4 linked regions of the Homo sapiens genome follow. The protein of the gene in region 1 interacts with the protein of each later gene in a pairwise test. Each region holds a gene or a part of one and is shown on either strand. Other genes may lie near its edges. The genes, in order: MS4A13, HERPUD2, ODF4 and RAMP1.

Region 1 (7,025 bases):
GATTTCAAAATTATTAAAAAGAATAATTTTAAAATTAATATGTTCCCATAGAATTGGTCACTTACTGCTTGTCCATAATTCCTGTATGACACAGAATTAAAATGAGACAACTCTATTATTGTTAGAGTTACTGCAGTAATTGTAGTAATTATGCAGATGATGTTTATGATTAAAGTACTTATAATCTGAAAAGGAGACAGAGGGCAAATTTATTATATTCAGAATAAACATTTTGGTGTAATAGTTTGCATTGCTGAAAAAACTCATCTAGTTAAAACTTTGATCTAGTTTCTGAAGTCTTAGAAGTATTAAATATTAAGAAAATATTTTTCTGATTTATATGAAGCCCAGTTAATCTGGAGGAAACATTAACACCATCAGTCCATTAATCATTAATCTTCCATTTAGGCTAAAACATATTGTATTTTTTGGGGCCGGGCGCAGTGGCTCACGCCTGTAATCCCAGCACTTTGGGAGGCCGAGACGGGTGGATCACGAGGTCAGGAGATCGAGACCATCCTGGCTAACACGGTGAAACCCCATCTCTAGTAAAAATACAAAAAAATTAGCCGGGCTTGGTGGCGGGCACCTGTAGGCCCAGCTACTTGGGAGGCTGAGGCAGAATGGTGTAAACCCAGGAGGCAGAGCTTGCAGTGAGCCGAGATTGTGCCACTGCACTCCAGCCTGGGTGAGAGAGAGAGACTCCATCTCAAAAAAAAAAAAAAAAAAGTATTGTGTTTTTCAATGTTATAGGTCATTTGGAAGAAAGCATATAAGATATGATTTGGACAAAAGTGGTTCCACTGTAAGAAAAAAAAAAAAGTGGAAAATGACTGCTTGTAGAAATAGGAGTCAGTTGATAAAATTTTAATCCTGGGTTTTCATTATCTAAGGAAATCTATCAGTATCTTCAGACATCATTTTTTTATCTGTAAAATTATGAGGGCAGACTAATTTCTAAGGTACGTTTTAGCTCTAAGATTCTAAAGTGTTCTTCCCAATTCTATCCACCTATACCATGCATGGATCTTTAATCTGGACCAATTCTGTACTTTGTTACAGGACACAATCTTGTTCCCAAACTGGATAGTTCAGAAAATGAAGTTTTACAGTAGTATAATGTCTATATCTAAAGGCATTAGGTCCTATTAAAATTTTTTAATTATAAAGTTTACACAATGTTAAAAGGCAGAACATCAAACAAAACAAAAACTATATATACATTTAGAAACCTATACATAAAGTAATCATGATTTTAACCAATACAGTATATTTGTCTATATTAAATTATGTTCTTCTAGATTCATTCTTAATTCTTTCATTTACTTTACAGGTAGGGTAGATTCCTTCATTGTTTAGACGTTATATTTTCATTAAAACTTAATATTTAGCTTTGTGATAAGTGATTTCTAGAGATACCTCAAACATTTCAACTTACTCCAGATCGAGTCGGATACTTTGTTACTCTTATTAGGAAGACTCCTGCAATGATAAACTGGATATAAAAACATATTTATAAATACTCATTGATAATGCTTGCCAATTTAGAATGTACTTTTAATAACTCTCTTGTAAGTCAATTATTTTAAGAATGCTAATAGTAACAAAATATACAGAAGTTTTAGTAGATGGGTCAGGACAAATTTACATCATGTAGTAATACATTGAAAGGTAATAGTAGAGTCACTCATAACAGAGACACATAGGGGACAGTGGGCAGATTCACACTGTGATAATATGCCAGACAGCCTAAGCAGTCCTGACCGGGAACCAAGTTTGCTTTTATGTGTATGAGATACATCATATATAACTCATTTGATTATTGCTTTTAATGTTATCCTTCCTAATGAGATGATGACACTACTTATGATTACTATGTACATATCCAAATATGGAAAAAGTGGTTCAAGAATCTATTCCATATTGTGATGGTACAAAATATGCAGTCTCTTTTATGAGATTGTAGTCATTATTAAGGTAATGGCAGAAATTCATGCCTTTGCCTTTGTTTTTTAAAACAGAGGTTCCATTATTTCATGTCAGGAAGTCTGTCTACTTCCAAGAAGTATAAAACTATGCCATATTGTTTGAAGATGGGTTGCACAATTTCCTCAAAGTATTCCTTATTTGTTTTATTGATAAGACACTAAAGATCCAAGTCAAAGGCTATTTTTGTCATGCTATACACTATATGTAGGAAGCCCAAACCTGAAGCTTACAAACTTCCCATGGATAATTTTAAATCTATTTGTTCAGCACTTCATTCCACAACAAAAGCTGAGATTTCTAAGGAGGTACACAGTGAACGTAAGAACTAGCTCAGAATTTAAAGTGAAAATATCTTGTGAATTTTGAATTAGAGTGCTCTCTAATGAGATTATCTTTCGATTACTATGTGTTTTACAAAATGCCTTTCAAAGTTTAGGCTTAAGTGAGAAGTTTAGTATTAAATTACATTTAGTTGAAATTTTAGATAAGTTATCCTAGGAGTTTAATATACTATTTTTATAATATGAGTGGTCAAACACTAAGGAAAATGCATCATTTATTTGGATTTTGTTGGAAAATCCACAGTTTTTCTCCTCTTTTTTAAGGTAGTGCTTTGACACTTGTGACCCAGTGCATCATTTATCATTTATCACCTATGAACCAGTGCATTATTTATGAGCCATTCATCTTTTATGAACCATGTATCATTTATCTGGATTTTGTGCAAAAATTCAATATTTTTCTCCTATTTTTTCAAGGCAATCCATTGACACTTATGAATTAGTGTATGTATAAAAGTGGGAGACCTCCTAGAGATCATTGTTTCTTCTAGTGATTAATTGCTGTCTCAATGGGCAGCCATATTGTATCCTACAGCCCTCATTCCATCTGTTCGAAGTGTGGGATAAGTGGTTTCCTTGCTCATTATTGCTATCCAACCATTCTTTCTCCTCCACCTTTGAATCACATGTCAGTTTCTATAACTCACTATCCTTCATGGTTTAAGTAATCTATTGACCCCTTGGCCATTCCTCTTTTCGAATGAATTGAAATTTTGACTCTCTGATTCTCTCTCCAACATCACTTAATATTTGGTGATTTTTACACACACACACAAACACACACATACATATATATGTGTGTATATATCTATATATATACATCTATCTATCTATCTATCTATCTATCTATCTATCTATCTATCTGTCTGATCTTTTGATATGGTTTGGCTCTGTGTCCCCACCCAAATCTCATCTTGTAGCTTCCATAATTCCCATGTGTTGTGGGCGGGACCCAGTGGGAGATAATTGAATCATGGGAGCGGGTCCTTCCCATGCTGTTCTTGTGATAGTGAATAAGTCCTATGAGATCTGATGGTTTTAAAAATGGGAGTTTCCCTGCACAAGCCCTCTCTCTTTGCCTGCTGCCATTCATGTAAGATGTGACTTGCTCCTCCTTGCCTTCTGCCACAATTGTGAGGCCTTCCCAGCCATGAGAAACTGTAAGTCCAACAAACCTCTATCTTTTGTAAATTGCCCAGTCTCAGGTATGTCTTTATTAGCAGCATAAAAATGGACTATTACAATAAATTGGCACCAGGAGTGGGGTGCTGCTGAAAAGATACCCAAAAATTTGGAAGTGACTTTGGAACTGGGTAACAGGCAGATGTTAGGACAGTTTGGAGGACTTAGAAGAAGACAGGAAAATGTGGGAAAGTTTGGAACTCCCTAGAGACTTGTCAGATGGCTTTGACCAAAATGCCAATAATGATATGAAAAATGAAATCAAGGCTGAGGTGGTCTCAGATGGAAGATGAGGAATTTGTTGGGAATTAGAGCAAGGTGACTCTTGTTATGTTTTAGCAAAGAGACTGGTGGCATTTTTCCCTAGAGATTTGTGGAACTTTGAACTTGAGAGAGATGATTTAAGATATCTGGCAGAAGAAATGATCTAAGCAGCAAACCTTTCAAGAGGTGACTTGGATGCTGTTAAAGGCATTCAGTTTTATAAGGCAAGCACAGCATAAAAGTTCAAAAAAATTTACAGCCTGACAATGTGATAGAAAAGAAAAACCCATTTTCTGAGGAGAAATTTAAGCCAGCTGCAGAAATTTGCATAAGAAATGAGGAGCTGAATGTTAATTCTCAAGACAATGGGGAAAATGTCTCCAGGGCATGTCTGAGATCTTCATGGCAGCCCCTCCCATCACAGGCCCTGAAGCCTAGGAGGAAAAAGTGGTTTCATGGGCCGGGCCCAGGGCCCCTGTACTATGTGCAGCCTAGGGACTTGGTGCCCTGAATCCCAGCTGCTTCATCTGTGGCTGAAAGGGGCCAATGTAGAGCTTGGGCCATGGCCTCAGAGGGTGCGAGCCCCAAGCCTTGACAGTTTCCATGTGGTGTTGAGCCTGCGGGTACACAGAAGTCAAGAATTAAGGTTTTGGAACCTCTGCCTAGATTTCAGAGGATATATGGAACTGCCTGGATGCCCAGCGGAAGTTTGCTGCAGGGGCGGGGCCCTCATGGAGAACCTCTGCTAGGGCAGGGCAGAAGGGAAATGTGGGGTCGGAGCTGCCACACAGAGTCCCTACTGAGGCACTGCCTGGTGGAGCTGTGAGAAGAAGGCCACCATCCTCCAGACCCCAGAATGGTAGATCCTCTGACAGCTTGCACCGTGTGCCTGGAAAAGCTGCAGACAACGCCAGCCTGTGAAAACAGCCAGATCAGGGCTACACCATGTGAAGCCACAGGGGTAGAGCAGCCCAAGGCCATGGGAGCCCACCTCTTGCATCAGCATAACCTGGATGTGAGACATGGAGTCAAAGGAGATCATTTTTGAGCTTTAAGATTTGACTGCCCCACTGGATTTTAGACTTGCATGGGGCCTGTAGCCTTTGTTTCAACCAATTTCTCGCATTTGGAACAGCTGTATTTACTCAAGCCTGTACCCCCATTGTATCTAGGAAGTAACTAACTTGCTATTGATTTTACAGGCTCATAGGTGGAGAGGACCTTGCCTTGTCTCAGATGAGACTTTGGACTGTGGACTTTTGAGTTAATGCTGAAATGAGTTAAGACTTTGGGGGACAGTTGGGAAGGCATGATTGGTTTTGAAATGTGAAGACATGAAATTTAGGAGGGGCCAGGGGCAGAAAAACTCCCATTTCTTAAAACCATTAGATCTTGTGAGACTTATTCACTATCATGAGAACAGCATGGGAATGACTCGCCACCCCCCCAGCCTCATGATTCAGTTATCTTCCACCAGGTCCCTCCCACAATACTTGGGAATTATGGGAGCTATAAGATGAGATTTGGGTGGGGACACACAGCCAAACCATATCATCTTTCTATACCTTGGGCTTGTGGTTCTTGTTCTCTCCTCCAATCCCTGACTCCAAACTATCTTAGTCACTCACTCCCATAATCATTCTCTTGTCCTTGTTGTACCTTTCAAATCTTAATTTCAAGTATTCCACCTGATCATCACCTGCTATCTTTCTAGCTCATGCCCTCTAGTATTAAAATTCTAACAACCCTTTGACCCCACCTGGGTCTATAATCTGAGAACTTCAACTCTCTGTTAAATTCTTCTTTCCATCACTAACTTAAATTTCATGGCCAACCATTACAAACACTGCCCTATATCCACTTGCAATTGCTTTGCACCTTTCTTGTTTTATTATAGTTGCACAGCTAAACAAAGATCCTGATTGTTTTTATCCTACTGCATGGTTGCACTCATGCAGCTGAACATGGCCTGAGGAAGGCATACAACCCATATTCATATCCTGTTCCTAAACCTCAAGTATGTCCTTAATGCTGTGTGAAAATAAAACCACCTCTCCATAATCTGTGCACTCTCACTTTTCCTCGATGATTATTTCATATTCTCTTGCCTTTCCTCAAACAACCAAACCACTTCCCCATACTCAATCTCAGCTCATAATCTTGCTTCCTAATTCATTGAGCTATTTGAAGCTACTGGAAAAAAAAAAAAACTTCCACAGGCTTCCAACATCCTATCAAAGAAAACTCTCCTTTCTCTGCCTTTCCCTTCTGTTTTTGTACTTTGAAACCATTTATAATTAGACTGGATAATTCTTTGTTGTGAGGTGCTGTCCTGTGGATCACAGGCTATTTAGCAGCATCTTTTGCCCCTGCCCATCTGATGTACATCTCCAGCGGTGAAAATCCAAAATATCTCCAGATATTATAAAATGTTATCAGGGGCAAAATTGCCTCTAGCTGAGAACCATGCCCTAGATAAACTTTCTATGCTCCTAGCTATTTGTGCATCAAAATCCATCACCTCTTGCCTACACAAATACTTGATCCCAATACCCACCCCCATTTACTCATATCATCAATTTTCTTTCTTTTGGTTCAGTCCTCTCAACAAAGGATATGATGCTGTTTCTTTCAACTCACAGAAACTAATAAGCAAACCCTCTCTTGAGCCAAGTTTCCCCAGCTATCACCCCATTTCTTTATACCACATTACAGTAAAGTCCTTAAAGAAGCTCCTGTTTGCTGTCTGTAATTCCTCTCTTCCTATTTTTTTCTTAAATCAACTCCTACCAGGTTTTTGCTTCACAATTCCACTGAAACTACTTGTAAAATTTACTACTGACTTCCATATTGCTAAATCCAATGGTCAATTCGTAGTCCTCATTTTATTTGACAAAACAACAAAATATAATATAGTTGATCCTTCCTCATTTCTTCTAACAATTTCTTCACTTGGCTTCCAGGATATCATGCTCTCCAGGTTTTCCTCTACCTAATGGCTATCTAGAAACCACAGGAGAGTGTTAGTAATGAAAAATTTAGAAAATGAGTACTGACTCATTGGGTGAGGAGACTGAAGTGAAGATAATAAACATGCAAGTTAATCATGCTAATGGATATTATAGTTAAGATTCTTTGCCTTTCACATATCTAGGGACAAACTGCCCTATGGTTGTCATTGTGTACTCCTGTATCCATATCTCTTGAAACAGCACTTGTAAATTAAAGGTGCTCAATATATATTTGTTG
Region 2 (7,025 bases), on another chromosome or scaffold:
TACATTCATAGTTTCTAGTAGCTTTGTTTCCCTTTCTCCCCATTTGGTTATCTTTCTTTCTGCTCCTTTTTCTTTGTCATTCTGTTCTTTTCTTTTTAAAAAACTAGCTGACTCATCCTTCATTGTTCTCTGTCCTCCTTTATTCCTTCTTTCCTTTCCCCATCTTATTTGCTGGCTTTATGTCTAAGTATAAATAAATATGCTTATGATCTCACTAAGCTAAAATGCCAACCCTAATCGTTATTTGGAATATTTTTCTTCAGTCATATTTCTAGGTTTATGGAAAAACATGGGATATTTACAGAATATAGTTTAAATGTATGCTTTATATCTGCGTATAGGTGTTATAGATAAAAATAGTTTTTGACTGAAAAAAAGAGTAAAAAAAATCACCTTGCTAAAATTAAGGCAAATGTGATTATGATGAAGTTATTTGAGTTTATTTTATAGTTGCTAAGCCTCAAGTGATGGAAATATGTAAACTGTAAAAAGTTTAAGGTGCTAGATGTTTTCATGCTGAAATTATAGATTGTGCTGTTACAACTTTCACAACATTGTTTGCTTTAAGACTGCTTCGTATGCAAAATAATTTTTTAACCCAGCAATTGCAGAGTATTTAGATCATTTTCCAAGTATGGAGAAAATATTGAATTCAAAAGGATCACAAATAAAATGACAAATTTACCTTCAAATGATAACAATTTATCAGTAATTAAATGGCTAGGCTCGAAAGGGACCTAAGTTTTAGGTATTTCAGTTTAGCTACTGACTTTTTGAACTGTACATTTTGTAGTACTACCCTTTAAATGTAATCTTCTTTAATTTTAGCAAGATGAGTATCATATGGTTCATCTAGTATGTACTTCTCGGACTCCTCCCAGTTCTCCAAAATCCAGCACCAATAGAGAAAGTCATGAAGCATTGGCATCCAGCAGCAATTCTGTGAGTTGTTTTGGGAGGAGTAAACATTGAACTTTTCTTTTTTTTTCGTCGTCGTCTTATTTTTTGCCTCTAAAAACTAAATGAAAAACAGAACAATTGGAGCTTGTGAATTTTGAGATTGTGTTTTGAACTAAAGTTAGGCATTTTGTAAAGTTTACCATTTTGAAAGATCTAATACGCAGTGTTATCCCTTGAAGTCTATTCACCTTGAGTTATAATTTGCTGTATGGCAGGTCAGTAATAGATTTAATCTTCAAAGGTTTAATTACTGGAATACTCAGAAAACGGAATTATGTTACGGTTATATAATATAAACTCTTAGGCCAATGACGTTTCAGAAATATGCCAGGTATTTAAAATAGTATATTTTATTCAAGGTGGATTAAATTGTTTAAAATTTAAGTACCCTAAATCTTCTTGAAGTAGATGACTTGGTCAAGGATTTTGTTTTTTAAAAATGACTGGATTTGGGTGTACATTCCACCTGCTTGGGGAGGAAATACTTAATGTATTAATCTCTTTCAGACTTGGGTATTCATTCCTCCATCCTTATTTTTCCATCTGCCTAAAATTGTTTTGGAAATGTTTTGTAATAGTTGACCTTCTCAATTTAGACATTTTCTACAAATTTCAAAAACATTGTCCCCAATCCTTTTATGTTATTTTTGATTTCCCATAAAAGCTTTCTATGACACCTTTGCAGGTGAGAGGATTGGATGAGTGGAAGCTTGCTTTCAACTTCTTGAGCAGTCAGGGAACTTTTCTACTGCTAAGTATGCTTTCCTTGTCAAGACTCCAGCCAAAGCTTGAAAGAGAGCACAAGTGACAGGGGTGGGAGCTAGTTGAAAACTCTCTCAATAGATACTAGTTAACTGCTTCTTTAAGAAACTAGCTTCTCCAGTTGCTGTATTTAATTTGTATTCTCTTAATGGTAACTATTTCCTAGTACCAGCCATGGGAATTTAGCTTACATTAAACTAAATAAAATATGCCTTGTCAAAACACCCAAGGGTCTTTGTATGTTTCCTGCCTTGGCATGGAAAGGCACAGACATTGGCATTGGCACAGAGTTTTTTTTTGTAGTCGTCGGACACAGTTGCATTGCTTCAATTTTTGTTGGGAAAGAACCCTCTGACTTTGACTTGTCCAGTGGGTTGCTCAGCCATGATTTTGTGTCATTAGTGTGTATATTTGTTTTTTTCAGTGTTATGAAAGCCTGAAAAGTATCAAAGGAATGTTAAGTTGAATTCACCTTAATTTTTCATGGTTCAGAAATTTCAAGGGACTTGAAAATATTTTAAAGATCTAATCATAAAATAATTACCTAATAAGGTCAGAAATCATTAGTTCTAGAGAAATTAGGTTGTGCTGCCAAATGACTAGGCTTTTCTTCTAATAATTGTATTAATGAACACCGTATTATGATGGCCCATTTAATGAGAAATCTTGCTGAAAAAGAAACCTTTCCCAGTTTATGTTCCTAAGAATCCGGACTCCTTAGTAAGATATTTGATATCTATTGTGTGTGAAGTAACATTTTAAAAGTTTTTGTTAGTCTTGCAAAAGACTGGTGTGGACTGTTTTGCAAAAGACAGTTTTGGACCTTTCACATTGCAGGACTTAGCATGGGAGTCATGCAAAAAGACATCCTGTCAATAGGAAGGCAGTACGGGTAAAATACAATTTAACAAAATTGTTAAAGGAAGGATGTTAAAATAATACTGTACCTAGCTTTTTAAAGTGGAAGAACTATAATTTATGTAAAATGTAATTGTGTTTTAAATGTACATGAAACACTTGACAAACTATTTTCAAACAAATTGGGATGGTCTTCAGGGAGTTATATTGTTTATGGTTACTGAATCCATGAGCACGAGAATAAAAAGATTTGAGCATGAGAATAAAAAAATACTGATTAACATCTTGATTCTCGTAGTTCATTTTGTAAAAAAGCAATATTTGTTGGTGATTTCTATAAACTAATAGAATTCTAGAACTGAAAGGAATCTTGAAAATTTAGTCCAATCTCATTTTCTGTAGGAAAGTGGAAACTCTGAGAGGTTAAGTGAACCTTTAAGGTTATAACTCTTGTTAATGTCAGAGATAACACTAGATTTTAGATCTTTTGATTTCTAGGATTTCTAGCCTGTTTCTCATTACTTTAAATCAATATGTTAACAATAGCATGTTGTACAGTACTTGGCACATAGTAACTGTTTAAATGACTCAGTAATTAGTACCATTTATTGAACACTTTCAATAAATGTATGTGTTAGGCATCATGAAAGGAGCTTTGCATGCATTAATTTAATCATGTGAAAAGAGCTTTTTATGCATTAACTTAATCCTCAGAATTTAATATGCTGTTTTTGTATATTATTATTCTGCTCCTCGGCCATTTCTAGTTGAAAAAATGGAATATTTTAGTTTAATTAAGCAGTTTTGATAAGTTTTGACGTACTAAAATTAAAATATCTACTTATACTGGACACACGATGTAAAACAGTAAATTTCTGAAATGTTATTTTGCAGAGGGATTTCATGAATACGTTTTTAGTAATGTGCCTGTAATTTTATGATTGTAAAGAACTAAATCTCCTTTTAAAAATTACATTTTTATTTGTAGAGTTCAGATCATTCAGGATCAACAACTCCATCATCTGGTCAAGAAACCTTGTCTTTAGCTGTGGGTTCTTCCTCAGAAGGATTGAGGCAGCGTACCCTTCCACAAGCACAAACTGACCAAGCACAGAGTCACCAGTTTCCATATGTAATGCAAGGGTAAGTGAAATTGTGGTAGCTATGGAATGTGATTGGGGCCCCCTAAAAATGAATTGCTTTTGAGTTTCACTATAGCCTCTTTGCAGTAATTAAAGTACATTTTAAATTTATTCATATATTTGATTTTGTATTTTGAGAACTAGAGGGTTAAGAAGAGCACTGCTTTTCAAACCTGGCTGCACATGAGAATCATGTAGGGCAGTGCTTTCAATCTTGAATGTTTGTCCTAATCACCGGGAGACCTTGTTGAGCTGCAGGTTTGTATTCAATAGGTATGATGGGGCCTGAGAATCTGCATTTCTGACAAGCTCCCAGATGATGCTAATGCTTCTGATGTTTGGACTACACTTTGAATAGCAAGGATCTACGTAACTAATTTTTTTTTACTCAGTCTCACTATAGATCTACTCAATTTAGTGTTTAGGGGAATGTGGTTGAGTGAAGGTATACTTGAAAGAGTACAGAGCCCAGCAATCTGTTTTTAAAAGTTTTTAAACGTTCCACAAGTGTTTCTAATCAACTTGGTAACAACTGTGCTAGAGTAAAACCATGATGTATTACAGGGATATGCTAATCTTGCTGCATGTTGTCCAGAATCTTTGTTGTATTGAGAGTTTTATAAAGCAGTTTTCTTAAGAAGCTTGCCATAGTCACCCTATATTTAGCAATTACAGCAGGCCCCTTGGGTTAGGCACTTCCAGAGGAAATGCAGCCACAGGTAAAGCAGCTTAGAGAGTAGGATCTTGGAGAACATGGTTTGGACCAGGGTTGTGTGTGAAAGCAGACTGTTTTACTGGGGTATTATTGTTTGTTATTTTTGAGGTAAAGGAAGCTTGAGTAACAGATAGTGATAATTTCTGTGTTGCGTATCAAGCCATGGGGCTGCAGTGTGTGGCACTGGTCTGGATCCATGATGATGGAGCTAGAAATGAGAATATGGCTAGGACCTCAGAATTGTAATGTAGGTGGTGTAACCAAGGAGTAGCTATTGACTGCTGTGCTCAACAGGACGGCATAAACACTCAGGTACTTTTTACTTAGAACTTTAAACTTAATTCAGTTATTAATACAGAAAAACAAAGCTGAATATATAGCAAATAGAAGAGAACTAATTTGTCTCAGATTTCTTAAATGTGAAGCCTTTTCTTTCAAAATAAATGTTTAGATGAGGCTGGTTGTAGACTTTCATAAAGTACCTGTGAAACTATTTTTGTTTTCAGAAAGTGATTACTATTAATATAAACCAAGATTTACTTGTAAAAAGCAGTGTTCTCAGGGTTTATATTATGGAACAGTAGCTTCAAATACTTTGTCTTATGACAGTAATTCACTTCCTTTCTTTTTCACAGAGTAAGTTCCTCTCAGTTTATACAGAGTGATTTTACTTATTTTATTTGGTGGTAGTGGTGGAAGGTGGGAGTATTATAAATAAGCCTGGAAAAATATATAGTGCCACATTAATAGTGGTTATCTCTGGATAAAATTTATAACTCTTTCTCTTACTTACAGTGAATATATTTTGTAATAAACAAATCAAGCTTATAAGATTACAGGTCTTCAGAATAAGACCATAGATACATTGGTAAAAGATTAATAATTTCTCTAAACTAGGCTATTGAGAAAATTAATAAACATAAAAGACAAAAGCATTCAGCTCTTCGAAGTATATTAAGCTGATTAGAAAAATCTGAAATAGGTGGCGCCAAGATGGCCGAATAGGAACAGCTCCAGTCTGCAGCTCCCAGCATGAACGATGCAGAAGATGGGCGATTTCTGCATTTCCAACTGAGGTACCAGGTTCATCTCACTGGGGCTTGCCAGACAAATAGGTGCAGCCCATGGAGCAGGGCGGGGCATCGCCTCACCTGGGAAGCGCAAGGGGTCGGGGAATTCCCTTTACTACAAAAGGGAAGCCGTGAGAGACTGCACCTGGAAAATCGGGATACTCCCACCCTAATACTGCACTTTTCCAATGGCCTTAGCAAACGGCTCACCAGGAGATTATATCCCGCGCCTGGCTCAGAGGGTCCCATGCCCAAGGAGCCCTGCTCATTGCTAGCACAGCAGTCTGAGATCAAACTGCAAGGCGACAGCAAGGCTGAGGGAGGGGCATCTGCCATTGCCGAGGCTCGAGTACATAAACAAAGTGGCCAGGAAGCTCGAACTGGGTGGAGCCCACCTCAGCTCAAGGAGGCCTCCCTGCCTCTGTAGACTCCACCTCTAGGGGCAGGGCATAGCTGAACAGAAGGCAGCAGAAACTTCTGCAGACTTAAATGTCCCTGTGTGACAGCTTTGAAGAGAGTAGTGGTTCTCCCAGCACTGAGTTTGAGATCTGAGAACAGACAGACTGCCTCCTCAAGTGGGTCCCTGACCCCCGAGTAGCCTAACTGGGAGGCATCTCCCAGTAGGGGGGCGACTGGCACTTCATAAGGCTGGGTGCCCCTCTGAGATGAAGCTTCCAGAGGAAGGATTAGGCAGCAACATGAGCTCCTTGCCAGCAGCGGAACAAAGCTGTATGGAGAATGACTTTGACGAGTCGAGAGAAGGCGGCTTCAGACAATCGGTAATAACAAACTTCTCCCAGCTAAAGGAGGATGTTTGAACCCATCACAAAGAAGCTTAAAAACCTTGAAAAAAGAGTAGACAAATGGCTAACGAGAATAAACAGCATAGATAAGTCCATAAATGACCTGATGGAGCTGAAAACCATGGCACAAGAACTACGTGATGCATGCACAAGCTTCAGTAGCTGATTTGATTAAATGGAAGAAAGGGTATCAGTGATTGAAGATCAAATGAATGAAATGAAGTGAGAAGAGAAGTTTAGAGAAAAAAGAGTAAAAAGAAATGAACAAAGCCTCCAAGAAATATGGGACTATGTGAGAAGACCAAATCTACATCTGATTGGTGTACCTGAAAGTGATGGGGAGAATGCAACCAAGTTGGAAAGCACTCTTCAGGATATCATCCAGGAGAACTTCCCCAACCTAGTGAGGCAGGCCAACATTCAAATTCAGGAAATACAGAGAACACCACAAAGATACTCCTCGAGAATAGCAATTCCAAGACACATAATTGTCAGATTCACCAAAGTTGAAATGAAGAAAAAAATGTTAAGGGCAGCCAGAGAGAAAGGTCTCATTACCCACAAAGGGAAACCCATCAGACTAATAGCTGATCTCTCGGCAGAAACTCTACAAGCCAGAAGAGAGTGGGGGCCAATATTCAATATTCTTAAAAGAATTTTCAACCCAGAATTTCATATTCAGCCAAACTCAGCTTCATAAGTGACGGAGAAATAA
Region 3 (7,715 bases), on another chromosome or scaffold:
TACCTTATACATTGTGACTATATAAATATCTTTTGTTGCAGAGCTAGTAATCACTTAGATTACATTTCCTTTCTTGAACTATTTGTAATTACCTTCTGAAAGACAATGTTTGATACATTCACAAGATATTATGAAATCTATGTTAGCTGTAAATGATTATAATATAATAAATACCTGGCCAGGCACAGTGGCTTGTGCGTGTAATCCCAGCACGAGCTGTAATCCCAGGCCAAGGCAGGAAGATCGCTTGAGCCCAGGTGCACCACCACACCTGTAGTCCCAGCTACTTGGGAGGCTGAAGTGGGAGGATTGCTTGAGCTCAGGAGTTCAGCTATGATAGTGTCACTGCACTCCAGCCTAGGTGACAGAGCGAGATTTGTCTCAAAAAAAAAAAAAAAAAAAAAAAAAAAAAAAGAATATGCCTGCACCTATCACCCAACTCAGGAACTAGACTCTTATTAATAATGCATATGTGCTCGTGTAACATTCCTCATCTCACTCCTATGCCTTCTTGAGAAGTAACCATCATATGATATTTCATGTTTACTGTGCCACTGCTTTTTAAAAACTACCATGCAATCATAAGCTTACATAAGCTTAAACAATGCATTGGTTGTTGAGCTTGGTTATAGGCTCTATAAAAATGGCATCATATGTACTGTGTAGTCTTCTGGGGGTTACATTTTTCAGGAAACATTCTATTTCCAAGATTCTTCTGTGTTGTGTGTTGCTGTGAGAAATGCTTATTATTAAAAACCCTTAGAAACTCCAGGAAAAAGCTGGGTGCAGTGGCTGATGCCTGTAATCCCAGCACTTTGGGAGGCCGAGGCGGGTGAATCACGAGGTCAGGAGTTTGAGACCCACCTGGCCAACGTGGTGAAAGCCCGTCTCTACTAAAAATACAAAAAATTAGCTGGGCGTGGTGGCGGGCACCTGTAATCCCAGCTACTTGGGAGGCTGAGGCAGGACAATTGCTTGAACCGGTGGGGGCACAGGTTGCAGTGAGCTGAGATCACACCACTGCACTCCAGCCTGGGGGACAGAGTGAGACTCCGTCTCAAAAAAAAAAAAAAAAAAAAAGAAACTCCAGGAAAAACTTAAAAACTAAAGAGGATTCGAGGGAGGAAGCCCAATCCTGACGACACTGGCTCTGTGTAAATGACATTCCCAGCAGGCCCACCACCCCCTCTCCCAGTGTTCTCCCCTCCTTCTCCCATCTTCAAGATTCTGTCTTCTGGCTGGGTGTGGTGGCTCATGCCTGTAATCCCAGCACTTTGGGAGGCCGAGGCGGGCAGATCACGAGGTCAGGAGATCGAGACCATCCTAGCTAACACGGTGAAACCCCATCTCTACTAAAAATACAAAAAATTAGCCAGGCGTGGTGGTGGGCACCTGTAGTCCCAGCTACTCGGGAGGCTGAGGCAGGAGAATGGCATGAACCCGGGAGGCGGAGCTTGCACCACTGCACTCCAGCCTGGACGACAGAGTGAGACCCTGTCTCAAAAAAAAAAAAAAAAAAGATTCTGTCTTCTGACCCAGTGCCCCAACTGTAGCTGCTTGTTCTAAGGATGACACTCGTCCCTGGCAGGGCCAGAGAATGCTTGGACTTGGGACTGAGAGGTCTCCCCTCCAGCAGCTGGAGGGGTCTGATACACAGCTTGGAGTGTGAGGGCCATGTTTCCCACCATGTGGACCAGAGCAGAGGAAGAGGCTGGTCTGCAGAGACAGAGGAAGACGCCCAGGGAGGGGCAGAGACCACAGCCAGAAGAAGCGCCCTCACAGGCTTTGAATTTCAACTTTCAACCATTCCTGAGGTCCCACTGCACAGGTGACATCAGGATTCATAGTTCACTCTCCTTTTGCTTACAAGGAGAGTTAATTTGGAGAGTTAATCTGTTCCATGATTTGCAGATGCCACTGACTGGCAAGGATGCTTGCCAGGAATTATCTTCTGCATTTTTGCTCTTTCCCTGTTTGCTAGTGAAAGACTGTAAAAACAATTAAAATGATAATTTAACAACATAATTACCAGTTGCTGGGAATTTACTATGAACTAGTGAGTGCTTTTTGATCATTATCTCATTCAGCACTCTTACCAAGTCTATGAGAAAAATATTGTTCCTGTGTTACAGATGAGTAAACTGAGGCATAAGGAAGCTATATGACATCCAGGTTCACAGGGCTATTAAGAGGAAGACCCGGCTGCATGTGGTGGCACACACCTGTAATCCCAAGACTTTGGGAGGCTGAGACAGGTGGATCACCTGAGGTCAGGAGTTTGAGACCGGCCTGACTGACATGGTGAAATCCTGTCTCTACAAAATACAAAACATTAGCTGGGCGTGGTGGCTCATTCCTGTAATCCCAGCTACTTGGGAGGCTGAGGCAGGAGAATTGCTTGAACCCAGGAGGCGGAAGTTGCAGTTAGCTGACCAAGATGGCGCCATTGCACTCTAGCCTGGGCAACAAGAGTGAAATCCCATCTCAAAAAAAAAAAAAAAAAAAGGCGGGGAAGACCCATTTTTCATACCTTTGCCTGTTGGACCCCAAAGCCTATGTTCTTTTTTTTTAGACAGAGACTCCTTCTGGCCTGAGTGATGAAGGAAGACTGTCTCAATAAATAAATACATAAATAAATAAAATTATAACAATCTCAGAAGGCATGACACCTCTAGGACCCATTCTCATCCTACATCCTCCTCTTTCTGGTGCTGAGAAAAAAAAGAAAGGAAAAAGAAAAGTCAAAAGAAGAGGGAAGGAACTGGTGGTGATTGACTAGCAGTGAGTAGAGCTGGGAGGGAGGTGAAGGGTTGGGGAAAGCAATGGGAAGCTCGATGACATCTTTGCAAGACATGTCCAAAGAACAATGGAGGGAGGATCTTTTCCTGGGGATAAGCTCCTGCTCCCTCCCCCTGCTCCATCAGTGAGCATTTGGGGTTGGGGTTAGGGCAGAGGAACTAGGAAGAGAAAAGGGGACTGTCCTAGTCCATTTTGTGTTGCTATAACAGAATACCTGAGGGTGAATAATTTATAAAGAAAAAAGGGCTATTTGGCTCACAATTCTGATGGCCAGAAAGCTCAAGATTGGGCATCTGTTGAGGACGTCAGGCTGCTTTCACTTATGGTGGAGGCAAGGGGGAGCTGGCTTGTGCAGAGATCACAAGGTAAGGGAGGAGCTGAAACTGTGCCCCAAACAGTTAAATAAACCAGTGATTAACAGACATTTTCGAGTTTACAGGATGGCAGCTAAGAAACAGCTTGCTGAAATGCTGAAAAATCCCTTTGCTTATAACAGGACTGGCTGAAATCAGTGGGAACCCGTATGGCTGACAGCAATCCGCACAGAACGAGCTTGCTGATGTCACAGCCTGAATTTCCACCTGCTGTTTCATACTAACGCCACCAAATTTGCACATGCAACCCACGAAGAACCTTGGAGATAACCAGACATGATTAAGGACTTTCTAGACTTCTCCTTTCTTTCCACCAATCACCCGCTAATCCCAGAATCCTCCCCCTAAACCTTTTCTAATAAAAGTACTGCCTTAAGACCAGCAAAGAGAGACAGATTTGAGCTGGATTCCCGTATCCTCGTGGGTCAGCTCACAATAAAGCTTTCCTTTTCTCAAAACCTAGTGCCCTAGTATTGGAGTATTGGCTTCTATGCACATCTGGCAGCGAGCACTTTTGCTTGGTAACAGCGCCAGGTTCTTTTTAACAACCAGCTATTGCGGGGAGCTAATGGAGTGAGGTCTCAGGGAAGGCGTTAATCCAATCACAAGGCATCTGCCCCCATGACCCAAACACCACCCACTAGGCCCTCTCACCTCCCATCACCACCACACTGGGGAGCAAATTTCAGCATGAGGTTTGGTGAAGACAAATTAACCATATGCAGACCACAGGAGGGCCTCTCACATACCATTGCTCATATGTAAAGGGAGGCAGAAGCTGGAGGGAGGTGTCAGATCCACAGTTCTGAGCTGTGGCCTGAGAAACAGGATTTCCGGAAAGAGTTAGAGCTGGAGCCACAGGCCAGGCAAGGTGGCTCACACCTGTAATCCCAGTGCTTTGGGAGGCCAAGTGGGGAGGATCTCATGAGGCCAGGAGTTTTTTTTTTTTTTTTTTGAGGCTGAGTTTCACTCTTGTTGCCCAGGCTGGAGTGCAATGGTGCGATCTCGGCTCACCGCAACCTCCGCCTCCCAGGTTCAAGCAATTCTCCTGCCTCAGCCTCCTGAGTAGCTGGGACTACAGGCATGTGCTACCACGCCCAGCTAATTTTGTATTTTTAGTAGAGATGGGGTTTCTCCATGTTGGTCAAGATGGTCTCGAACTCCCGACCTCAGGTGATCCACCCACCTCGGCCTCCCAAAGTGCAGTGATTACAGGCGTGAGCCACCGTGCCTGGCAGAGGCCAGGAGTTTGAGACCAGGCTGGGTAACATATCAAGACCCCATCTCTACAAACAATTGAAAAATTAGCCAGGCATGCTGGCACAATCCTGTAATCCCAGCTACTCAGGAGGCTGAGGTGGGAGGATCACTTGAACCCAGGAGTTCAAGGTTGCAGTGAGCCAAGGTTGTGCCACTGCATCCCAGCCTGGGCAATAGAGGGAGACCCTGTCTCTCTCTCTAAAAAAAAAAAAAAAAAAAAAAAAAATTGCTGAAGACTTGGCTTCCCTCCCCCATCTCACTGTGCCCCAGGAAAATTCCGTGGCAGTTAGGGGACCTGGCCTGCTGAATGGGTTGGGGCCTTCTCTTGGATCAAGAGTCTCTTATTTGATCGAGGTCTGTTATTAGACTTCCTCATTCTTTCTCAGACCTCAGGCTGCATGGTGGCAGCTGATGAAAATATCCAAAAGATGAGAAGAGACAATTGAGTCTGGTGAGGGAAAGGGGAGACAGAGGGTGAAGTGGTGCTCAAGATGGATGCAGAGTACTCTGGGAATGAGTTCCCCAGGTCAGAAGGAGAAAGAGACCAACATCAGAGACCTGGAAAGGAAAGGAAGAGTGGGGAGGCAGGATGGGGCACAGGTGAGCTGGGACAAGATGGGAGACTGCTGTCCTCCACCCTCTCCCTCAGTAGTAACAGGTCCTTGGGCCAGCGCCAGAACTCTCCGCTGCCCTTTCAATGGAGAATCACACACAGCTTCCGCTGGATGGCCCAGGTGTTGGCCTCTGAGCTCAGCCTGGTTGCCTTTATCCTACTATTGGTCGTGGCCTTCTCCAAGAAATGGCTGGACCTCTCTAGGAGCCTCTTCTACCAGCGCTGGCCCGTGGATGTCAGCAACAGAATCCACACATCAGCCCACGTTATGTCCATGGGGCTCCTGCACTTTTACAAATCCAGGAGCTGTTCTGACTTAGAGAATGGGAAAGGTGAGCCCCTCCACCCCCCATCCCAGCCCAGGCCGCCAGCCTGTCTTGGCCTCTGTATCTGCACCCTGGATGTATTCTTGTTCCCTCTTTCTGGTCATCTTTACTTTTTGGCCTGCAAGATGGTTCCACTGGCACTGAGACCTCCGATGATCGTTTCTCATCCTGTAGCCTGGCTAAATAGATTTGATTGGTGCAATGGAAAATGTCACTGCTTTTGATAAAACCCAGAGCCAAATCTGTGCTTCTAAGAATGCTGTGAGAGAGTTGGGCATGGTGCTGCACACCTGTAGTCTCAGCTATCCAGGAGGCTGAGGTGGGAGGATTGCTTGGGCCCAAGAATTTGAGTCCAGCCTGGGCAATTTAGTGAGACTCCTGTCTCAAAAAAAAAAAAAAAAAAATCAGGCTGGGCACTGCGTCTCACACCTGTAATCCCAGCACTTTGGGAGGCCAAAGCAGGCAGATCACCTAAGGTTGGGAGATCGAGACCATCCTGGCTAACATAGTGAAACCCCGTCTCTACTAAAAATACAAAAAATTAGCCAGGCGTGGTGGCACATGCCCGTAATCCCAGCTACTCTGGAGACTGAGGCAGGAGAATTGCTTGAACCCGGGAGGTGGAGGTTGCGGTGAGCCGAGACCGCACCATTGCACTCCAGCCTGGGCAACAAGAGTAAAACTCTGTCTCAAAAAAAAAAAAAAGTTACGAGGGGCATGGACTCAGCACAAGAGAATCATTCATTAATCGCCTAATTTACCAGGGACAAGAGCCCCAGTGAGATGGGGGTTTCCTTAGTCTTGTGTACCCAGAGCTTTGAGAGGACTCCTTGCAATGTCCCCTCTCAGGCCCTGATCCCACACATTCTCCTTTCCTTCTGCCTCAGGCCTTGCTTTTCTGGATCATTTTCCTTTTTCCACATCTGGCTTCTGTGTTCCTTCTTTCCCTGAATTCTTGCAGCTGCTTCATTCCTCATCCTTGTTTTTTTCTGTTTGTTTCGCTGATTTTTTTAGAGACAAGGTCTCACTCTGTCACCCAGGCTGGAGTACAGTGGTGCAATCATAGCTCACTGCAGCCTCGAACTTCCAGGCTCAAGGGATCCTCCTGCTTTAACTTCCGGAGAAGCTCAGACTACAGGCCGTGGCCACCACACCTGGTTCTTATTGTTGTTAGTCTCTGGTTATGCTGTTCCCTCACCCCTCAGGAATTTGGAGTTCTTTCCCTGCTCCTGGGGAAAACCAGAGCTTTTGACCCTTATTTCCATTTTTTCACTCTCCTTAGCATGAAAAAAATCACACAGCTATTATTTTCTGAAAGTATTATGTCCTTATCATATGAATATGAAAATATTCATATAATGAATTATGAAAGCATTATGAAAATATTATGTCCTTATTATAATAAATTTGGGGAAACAAAAGCTATCCTTTATTGTACACTTACTCCATTTGTTCAATTTAGTCCTTAGTCAATCCTAAGGGATAGGGATAATTATCCCTATTTTAGAGATGAGAAAATTGGGACTCAGAGAGATTAAGTACCTTGCTCAGGGTCATAAAGCTATTTAGATTGAACCAAATGACATGCTAATATTTGACTGCTTTTCACCTACAAAAGGAGAATTTCACATGGATCAACCTAATAATGGCAGGGTTGGAATTGCAACTCAGGTGTGCCTGGCTCTAAAACTCACATAGGCGCCTTGCTCTACGGAGTTACTCAAAGACAGCCAGGCTTTTTATTTTTATTTATTTATTTATTTGAGACAGAGTCTTGCTTTGTTGCCCAGGCTGGAATGCAGTTGCGGTCTCAGGTCACTGCAACCTCTGCCTCCCGGTTTCAAGCGATTATCCTGCCTCAGCCTCCCAAGTAGATGGGATTACAGGCGCCCACCACCATGCCCAGCTAATTTTTGTATTTTTAGTAGAGACGGAGTTTCACCATGTTGGCCAGGCTGGTTTTGAACTCCTGACCTCAGATGATCCGCCTGCCTCGGCCTCCCAAAGTGCCTCGGCTCACGGATTACAGGCGTGAGCCACCGCATCCGGCCAAACATCACTGATTTTTAAAATTTATTTAATTAGGATTAGGTGTGTATAAACAGTGAAAATTCAAAGAATACAAAAGATTGTATACTGAAGTGAGTCTGTTATCTCTTAGTATCCAGTCTCCCTCCCTAGTTTCTCCTGTTTCTTTCCAGAGACACTCTATTCAGAGACAAGCATCTATTTTTATTTTTATTTTGAGACAGTGTCTCACTCCGTCACCCAGGATGGACTGCAGTGGTGTGATTGTAGTTTATTGCACTGCAGCCTCAAACTGCTGGGCCCAAGTGATCCTCC
Region 4 (7,025 bases), on another chromosome or scaffold:
GTGTGAATTCCAGCGGAAATGCTGAGCCCAGAGAGTGAAGCCCCTCGGGCTTGCCTGCCAGTGCCCCTGCCAGTGCCCCCACCCCCAACTCAGGCCTAGAACCCCTCTTTCCTGACGGTCTTTGTGGTATGGTGGGCTGGCCCTCAGTGGTCTCTGAGCCAGGCCTGGCCATCCAGATGGTCCCAGGGAGGAGACTGGCCGCAGGCTGGACAGTCAGTGTTCTGCTGGAACCACGGGGAAAAGCTGCGTCTTTCCTCCAGGCTGGATCTGAGTGGGGCTGCCACAGTCTACCCTGTGAGCCATGGGGGAGTACCTGTCCATGACATAGAGCACTCCTGAAGCCTTTTGAGCCCCTAGATCGAGCTCATGGGGTACACATTTCCATCATGTGACCCATAACGTTTGAGATGGGTGTCTGTCCCTTGCAGGGACGGCAGGCTCAGGGGGCTCCGAGAATGGCGTACCTGGGGGACTGTGGGAATCCTGCCCAAGAGCCTCCTCCTCCACTGGGGACCCAGGGAGGCCTCCTGAAAGAAGAGGTGCTGCAGCCAGGAAGACAGTGGGAGCTGGGAAGGGGACAGGGGAGCCCGGGCTACAGTGGCCCTGGTGGCTCCAGCACTTGCTGGACCATGTGCCCACTGCCCCAGCCCACCAGTTTCTTGGTGGCAAATGAAGAGGCAGAGACGGTGCTGCCAGGGCACTGTTCAGTTCCCAGCCTGCCATACCCCCTGCCTACCTCTGACACATCCCACAGCAGACATATGAAGCCCTGGAGGGATGTCCTTGTCCCCAGTCCTCTCTGCTCCAGAACAGGAGGACTCTCAGCTGGGTGATGTTCCTGGAGGACCTGTTTCTCCTTAGTGAGGAGGATGCGTCAACACGGCCACCATAGGAGGGCTCCCAGCCCAAACAAAATCGTACTCACTTCACCGAATGATGTTATTCTGTTCAGGAAAAATATTTTTTTCCTAAGATGGTTTATTTCAGTAATTTCTGGGGCATCCGAAAGGCATCACTTTAACCATCTTTTAAATCACGGCTTCTGGGTGGCTTTGTTGGAGCAGGGTCCAGGGGGACACACTAGCCAGATGTGGCAGGAGTGCAGGGCTATGGGCCTGAGTCACAGGCCCCCCGACTCTACGTTCTCAGCTCTCTCGGTGACTCCTCCCCGTGCTCCGAGAGTGCTTCACTCCCTCCCATGTGCAGTCACATGGTGGATTCTCTGGGACCGAGAACCAGAATCCCAAAACCCCAGGCCCCGGCTGTCCACTGTGCCCTCCGCCAGGGTCAGCACCACCTCCACCCCTCACGGGGACAACTGCCCAGCCTCCCAGAACCCCCACCCCACCCACCACCCCAGGGACAGGGGGTCTTCCTCTGTGCCCCCAGCAGACCCTCAGGGTACGTTAGTGTCACCCCCACACATGCCATGTTCAGGCCCCCAGGCCTTGGCTCCGGGGAAGCAGCTCCTGAATTAGCTGAGAGTTCTGGGAAACCACGGGGGCAGGAGGGGAGGCAGAGTGACCTGGCCCGTGGCCTGGGCCAGCTCACTCCAGGGGGTGGGGTACAGCTTGCCCAGGAAGCCCTGCCCCCTGTTCTCCCGGACCACGTATCCCCACACGAGTCTCAGGAAGGACTGTCTTGAGTCTGACACCACCTGGGAGGAGAAAAGTCAGTGATTTGCCCAACCATGCGCGTGTTTGCTTCGTAAGGCCTGCCGCTGTCAGGTACCCTGGCCCCAGGCCGGGAGGGGAAGAAGCCTAGAAAGCATTGCCTCTTCAATGGACACTTGGTGACTGACACCCGGGGTGGCTCTCTCTGCAGGGATTTTCTTGCCTCTGGAGGAGACAGTTGTGAGAGGGAAGCGGGGGAGGTGGATGGATGAGGGAATGCCGGGAAAGCGCTGCACCGTTTCTCCTGGAAACACCCATCTGCCACCTCACACACGGGACACACAGGGTCAGGACTCTCACACACGTGGGACACCCAGGGTCAGGACTCGGAGGGGGCAAAGGACAGGGGTGCAGAGCAGCCTGCTACAGTAGGGTGTCCTACACAACCCAGGGCAGCTCCCCCAGAGGATGATCCCACACCAAATGTCCATAGTGCCAGGGTGGGGCAGCCCTGCTGCATGTCAACCATGTAGACATGTGGTGCTACTTAAATGCAGCAGGAAATAAACAGGAGACCACGGAGCACAGCCCTGAGGAGCAGCGGCAGCACAGTCCAGAGGGCAGAGGGCAAGGACGGTTGTGCAAAGGCCCTGCTTTGGAAGTTCCTGGAAGCCTTTTTGACTGAAGCATGGTGGGGAAGAGGGCTTTGAGCCGAAGCTGGTGCTGGAGGAAAGACCCATTCTCTAAGCATTCAGATCTCATTCCTAGGGCAGTGGGAAAACCTTGAAGGACATTAAAGGGGGTGACAGGACAGAAGGTGTGGTTTAAAGGAGCCCTCAGCTGTGGCCCCCAGCATGGGCAGGAGGCCAGGCAAGGATAGGAGTGGGAGGGTTCCAGGGAGTCCTGGAGGCGAAAGTGATGGACTCCAGTCCCTGGGCCTGGATGCAGGAAGTGAGGCAGCGCTGAGGAATGAAGAACAGCACCTGGCAGAGCTCCTGGGGGAGTAGGGAGGGCAGGGCAGGGGAGAAGAGAGGAGAGGAGGGGAGGGGAGAGCAGGGGAGAGGAGAGGAGGGGAGGGCAGGGGAGAAGAGAGGAGGGGAGGGGAGGGCAGGGGAGTAGAGAGGAGAGTGCAGGGGAGGGGAGATGACACCCCAGGCCACAGCCAGGGCTGCCAGGAAACATGGGAGCCCCAGGCAAACTGGAATTTCAGATAAACAAGAAGCATAAGCCTGTCTCATACAGTATCGGGAACATGCCTCAAAAACCACCGTTTCTCTGAGATGCAGATTTCGCAGGGCCTCCTGTCATTTGCTGCACCTGGCAGCCCCGTCCTCAGCAGCCACATGGGGTTCAGCGTTCCCCTTGGATTCTGAGGGGTGATGGTACGTAGACAGGAGTCTATGCAAATCAAGGGTTCAGAAAGAGGTATGGCCAAGAGAGGTGTTTCTGGCGGCAGCAGGGCCTGGCCTATGTCAAATCCTTGCTTGGAGGGGTGACCGGTGAGAGTGGGTAGAAACAGGCCCAGGCTCCTTGTGAGAGGCCAGAGAGGACGGCCAGGGAGGACAGAGAAGGAAACGGGCCCCAGGCACCACTGGGCACCTTGACATGATTGGTGGTGGAGGGAGGCAGATGGCAGGGTCCTTTGCAGGAGAGGCAGCGGCGAAAGCTGCCCTTAGGAGGCAGCGAGGAGGTGAAACCAGAGAGCATGCCTGTGTAGGTTTCCTCCAGTGCCTTATGGTTCTAAACACACAAACCTTTGATGCATCTGGAATTTACCTTAATTTCCTAGCAATTTTTATCAATGGCTCAATATTTGGGGGATTTTCATGGTAATTGCACTGAATGTATTAACTGGTCAGGGAGGATTACATCAAGACCACCGGCTCGAGAAACAGCAGTCTGTTCCTCCACCCCCACGTCTGCATCCAGGCCCTTCCACAGAGATCTCATTTCTCCTGCAGATGACTCATTCAGTGTCTAGGAATCCGGTGCTCTGTGGCCACTACCGAGAGTGGGATATTTTCCCCCATTTTATTTTCTAGCTGGTCATCGCTGGGCTAAGAGGAAGCTCCTCTTCTGTGTGTTTCTTTTGTGACTGTTGTCACCCTGTGCCTGTTTTTTATTTTAGTTTTTTTGCTTCCTGCTTGGTTCTTCAGGCCAGTCATAAGGTCACCCGTAACCTAGGGTGGTCCTACCACCTCTTAACAATTTTCCCTGTTTTGTTCTCCAGTCGTACTGTGTTGGAGAGTGACTCACTGCTGAGTAGGGGAGTGACAGCAGCTGCCTTCCTTTGCTGCTGGCGATGGCAATACAAGTGACCCTTGAACAACGCAGGGGTGGGGCGCCGAACCCCCACATGGTCAGAAATTCGAGTGTAGCTCTTGACTCCCCCAAAGCTTAACGACAGCCTACTATTGAGCAGAGGCCTTACTGATAACATTATCTGTGAGTTAACCCATATTTTGTATGTTACATGTATGTATACTGTATTCTTTTTTTTTTTTCTTTTTTTGAGACTGAGTCTCCCTCTTTTGCCCAGGCTGTAGTACAGTGGTGCGATCTTGGCTCACCACAACCTCCAACTCCCGGGTTCAAGTGTTTCTCCTGCCTCAGCCTCCCCAGTAGCTCAGATTATAGGTGCCCGCTACCATGCCCGGCAAATTTTTGTATTTTTGGTAGAGACGGGGTTTCACTATCTTGGCCAGGCTGGTCTCAAACTCCCAACCTCAAGTGATCCATGCATCTTGGCTTCCCGAAGTGCTGGGATTACAGGCGTGAGCCACTGTGCCCAGCCTATACTGTATTCTTATAATGAAGTAAGCTAGAGAAAAGAAAGTGTTATTAAGAAAATTAGACCCAGCATGGTATCTCACGCCTGTAATCCTTGCATTTTGGGAGGCCAAGGTGGGAGGATCGCTTGAGTCCAGGGGGTGGAGGTTGCAATGAACCAAGATCACACCACTGCAATCCAGCGTGGGCAATAGAGTGAGATCCCATCTCAAAAAAACCCACAGAAAATATATATACTTTTCATTAAGTGTAAGTGGATCATCCTAAGGTCTTCATGTTGAGGAGGCCAAGAAGGAGGAGCAAGAGGAGGGGTTGGTCTTGCTGTCTCAGTGGCGGCAGCGGCAGAAGAAAAGCTTCATGTAGGTGATCCACACAGTTCAGAGCCATGTGGTCAAGAGTTAACACCTTAAACCTTCTGTCTTTCTCCTTTGGGGCCAGATGCTTTTTTATTGTATTTTTGTGGGGGTGGGGGTGGGAGAGGGATGGAGAATGCATCTTCTTCCCGTGTGTAAAGTAAGCTTTTGTCCTGTGAAGGAAGAACCGTTCGATGTGACACAACAACCTGCCCAGCTGGACATTGTCTCAGTGCTGGCAGGCCGCTGGCACTGGCGAGGCTGTGACACAGGAGAAGTGGTCAGAGGCTGCGAACCTACCGTGTTTCTGGGATGAATGGAGCGTTTCCTCATTCCTGTGCAGCCTTTCGGCAGTCTCAGGTGTCTGTTGGCCACTGTTTGTTCTGAGTGTGGCTTCGTTCTTCCTGAGTGAGCTTGCTCTGTACTTTACCTTGGGAGTTTTATTACCAGCATTGGGTTTTCTTCCCAAGATACAGGTTGTGGACCCTTATTCTTTCCCTGTGTGCTAGGATAGTCAGGATGATGGAAATAAGCAGTTCCTTGAAGATCTAGAGGGTCTTCATTTTCACCTGCAAAACCACCGGGGCCAGGCTCCTTTTCATGGTGTAGAAAATTGGCAACCTTTTCAGTATCTTTCTGGTGTTAATTGGTCCCCTTGGGTTTTCTGTCTTTTTTTTTTTTTTTTGGATGGAGTCTTGCTCTGTCGCCCAGGCTGGAGTGCAGTGGAGCGATGTCAGCTCACTGCAACCTCCACCTCCCAAGTTCAAGTGATTCTCCTGCCTCAGTCTCTCAGGTAGCTGGGATTACTGGTGCCTGCCACCATGTCCAGCTAATTTTTGTATTTTTAGTAGAGATAGGGTTTCACCATGTTGGCCAGGCTGCTCTCGAACTCCTGGCCTTCGGTGATCCACCCACCTCAGCCTCTCAAAGTGCTGGGATTACAGGCATGAGCCACTGTGCCTGGCTGGGGTTTTCTGTGTCTTGTAGCAGTGATGTTGTTTTACATTTTCCTCTGAAGTTGTTCATTTTATCCACATATCATTATGTGAACAATTATTTTTCTAATTCCCTCTACATCTGTGAACATCTGTCCTTTTTAGTGCAATTTTGTGAATTTGTATTTTCATGTTATTTCTTGATCAGAATGGACAGTGGTTAATCTGTGATTGGTCTCTTCCCCACTGATTCCCTCCCCCCACCAAAAAAAAAAAACAAAAAAAAAAAAACAGTTCCTGAGTTTACTTACTCTACACTTTTTCTTGAATGCCTAACGCATTTCTTTTTGTTCTTTGCTGGCGTGGGAATGAAACGTCATCGGTTCTCTGCTTGGCAGCTTGGCTGGATCCCCTGAGTTTGCCTCTGCCTTGTGCTCATGGTTGATATTTTCTGGATTCTCTGTATTTGTGGTTTCTGTTTCCTCTTTAGCACGTGAATTGTTTGGAAGCAAGTTTTTACAAATCTCAGGGGCTCCGGCTTTTTGGTTTCTCTCCCGATACTCATTGCTAGTTTTATTGCACTGTGGTCGGGGGCAGAGCGGGAACCACAACCATGACTTAGTGTGCATTGCGGGTTCTTTCTTGGTCTTACAAATTTTTCGTGTTGTAAATGGCCCGTAAGCCCGTGGGAGGAGTGTGGCGTTTTTATGTATCCATCCCGGTCATCATATTAAATTTAATACTTAGGGCCTCCGTATCCCTATTTTCATCTTCTCCATCCATGCGCATTGTGTGAAAACCCTGCACTGCGTTTGTGATCCTGCCTGCTTTCCCTGGGCACGTGTTGCTGCGTGTTCACGCAGGGGAGAGGATGGGGAATTCCATATGTGACCCTGCCAGTCACAGCTGCATGGTGACTTCTTATAGCTCTGTCCCAGTCATTGCTTTTTTAATTTTAATTGCGGTAAAGTATACACCACATAAAATGTACCATCTTACCTATTTTTAAGTGTACAGTTCTATGCCACTAAGCACACTCACGCTGCTGTACAACCATCGCCACTATCCATCCCTAGAAGTTTTTTCATTTTGCAAAACTGAAACTCTGTCCCAGTTAAACACTAACCCCCTGCTGATTTACCACCTCCCCCAGCCCCTGGGACCCACGATTCTACTTTCTGTCTCTGACTACTCTAGGAACCTGTATTAGTGGAATCATACAGCATTTGTGACTGGCTCATTTCACTTAAGGTTCTTCCATGTCGTAGTGTGAATCAGAATTTCCTTCCTTTTGAAGGCCAAATAATATTCCACTGTTATGGATAGACCACACT

Evidence for each region.
Region 2: the proteins of MS4A13 (region 1) and HERPUD2 interact in binary tests that used the Homo sapiens proteins (3 or more experiments, as listed by UniProt).
Region 3: the proteins of MS4A13 (region 1) and ODF4 interact in binary tests that used the Homo sapiens proteins (3 or more experiments, as listed by UniProt).
Region 4: the proteins of MS4A13 (region 1) and RAMP1 interact in binary tests that used the Homo sapiens proteins (3 or more experiments, as listed by UniProt).

Annotation. Positions count from the first base shown.
Region 1 is NC_000011.10:60,518,367-60,525,391, reverse strand, and holds part of MS4A13 (membrane-spanning 4-domains subfamily A member 13), read right to left. Parts: intron 1,496-7,025; coding exon 1,439-1,495; intron 186-1,438; coding exon 66-185; intron 1-65. UniProt on the Homo sapiens protein: May be involved in signal transduction as a component of a multimeric receptor complex.
Region 2 is NC_000007.14:35,664,132-35,671,156, reverse strand, and holds part of HERPUD2 (homocysteine-responsive endoplasmic reticulum-resident ubiquitin-like domain member 2 protein), read left to right. Parts: intron 1-828; coding exon 829-942; intron 943-3,568; coding exon 3,569-3,723; intron 3,724-7,025. UniProt on the Homo sapiens protein: Could be involved in the unfolded protein response (UPR) pathway.
Region 3 is NC_000017.11:8,335,128-8,342,842, forward strand, and holds the start of ODF4 (outer dense fiber protein 4), read left to right. Parts: upstream 1-4,712; 5' UTR 4,713-4,924; coding exon 4,925-5,378; intron 5,379-7,715. UniProt on the Homo sapiens protein: Component of the outer dense fibers (ODF) of spermatozoa which could be involved in sperm tail structure, sperm movement and general organization of cellular cytoskeleton.
Region 4 is NC_000002.12:237,862,622-237,869,646, forward strand, and holds part of RAMP1 (receptor activity-modifying protein 1 isoform 1 precursor), read left to right. Parts: intron 1-7,025. UniProt on the Homo sapiens protein: Accessory protein that interacts with and modulates the function of G-protein coupled receptors including calcitonin gene-related peptide type 1 receptor (CALCRL) and calcitonin receptor (CALCR). Required for the transport of CALCRL to the plasma membrane.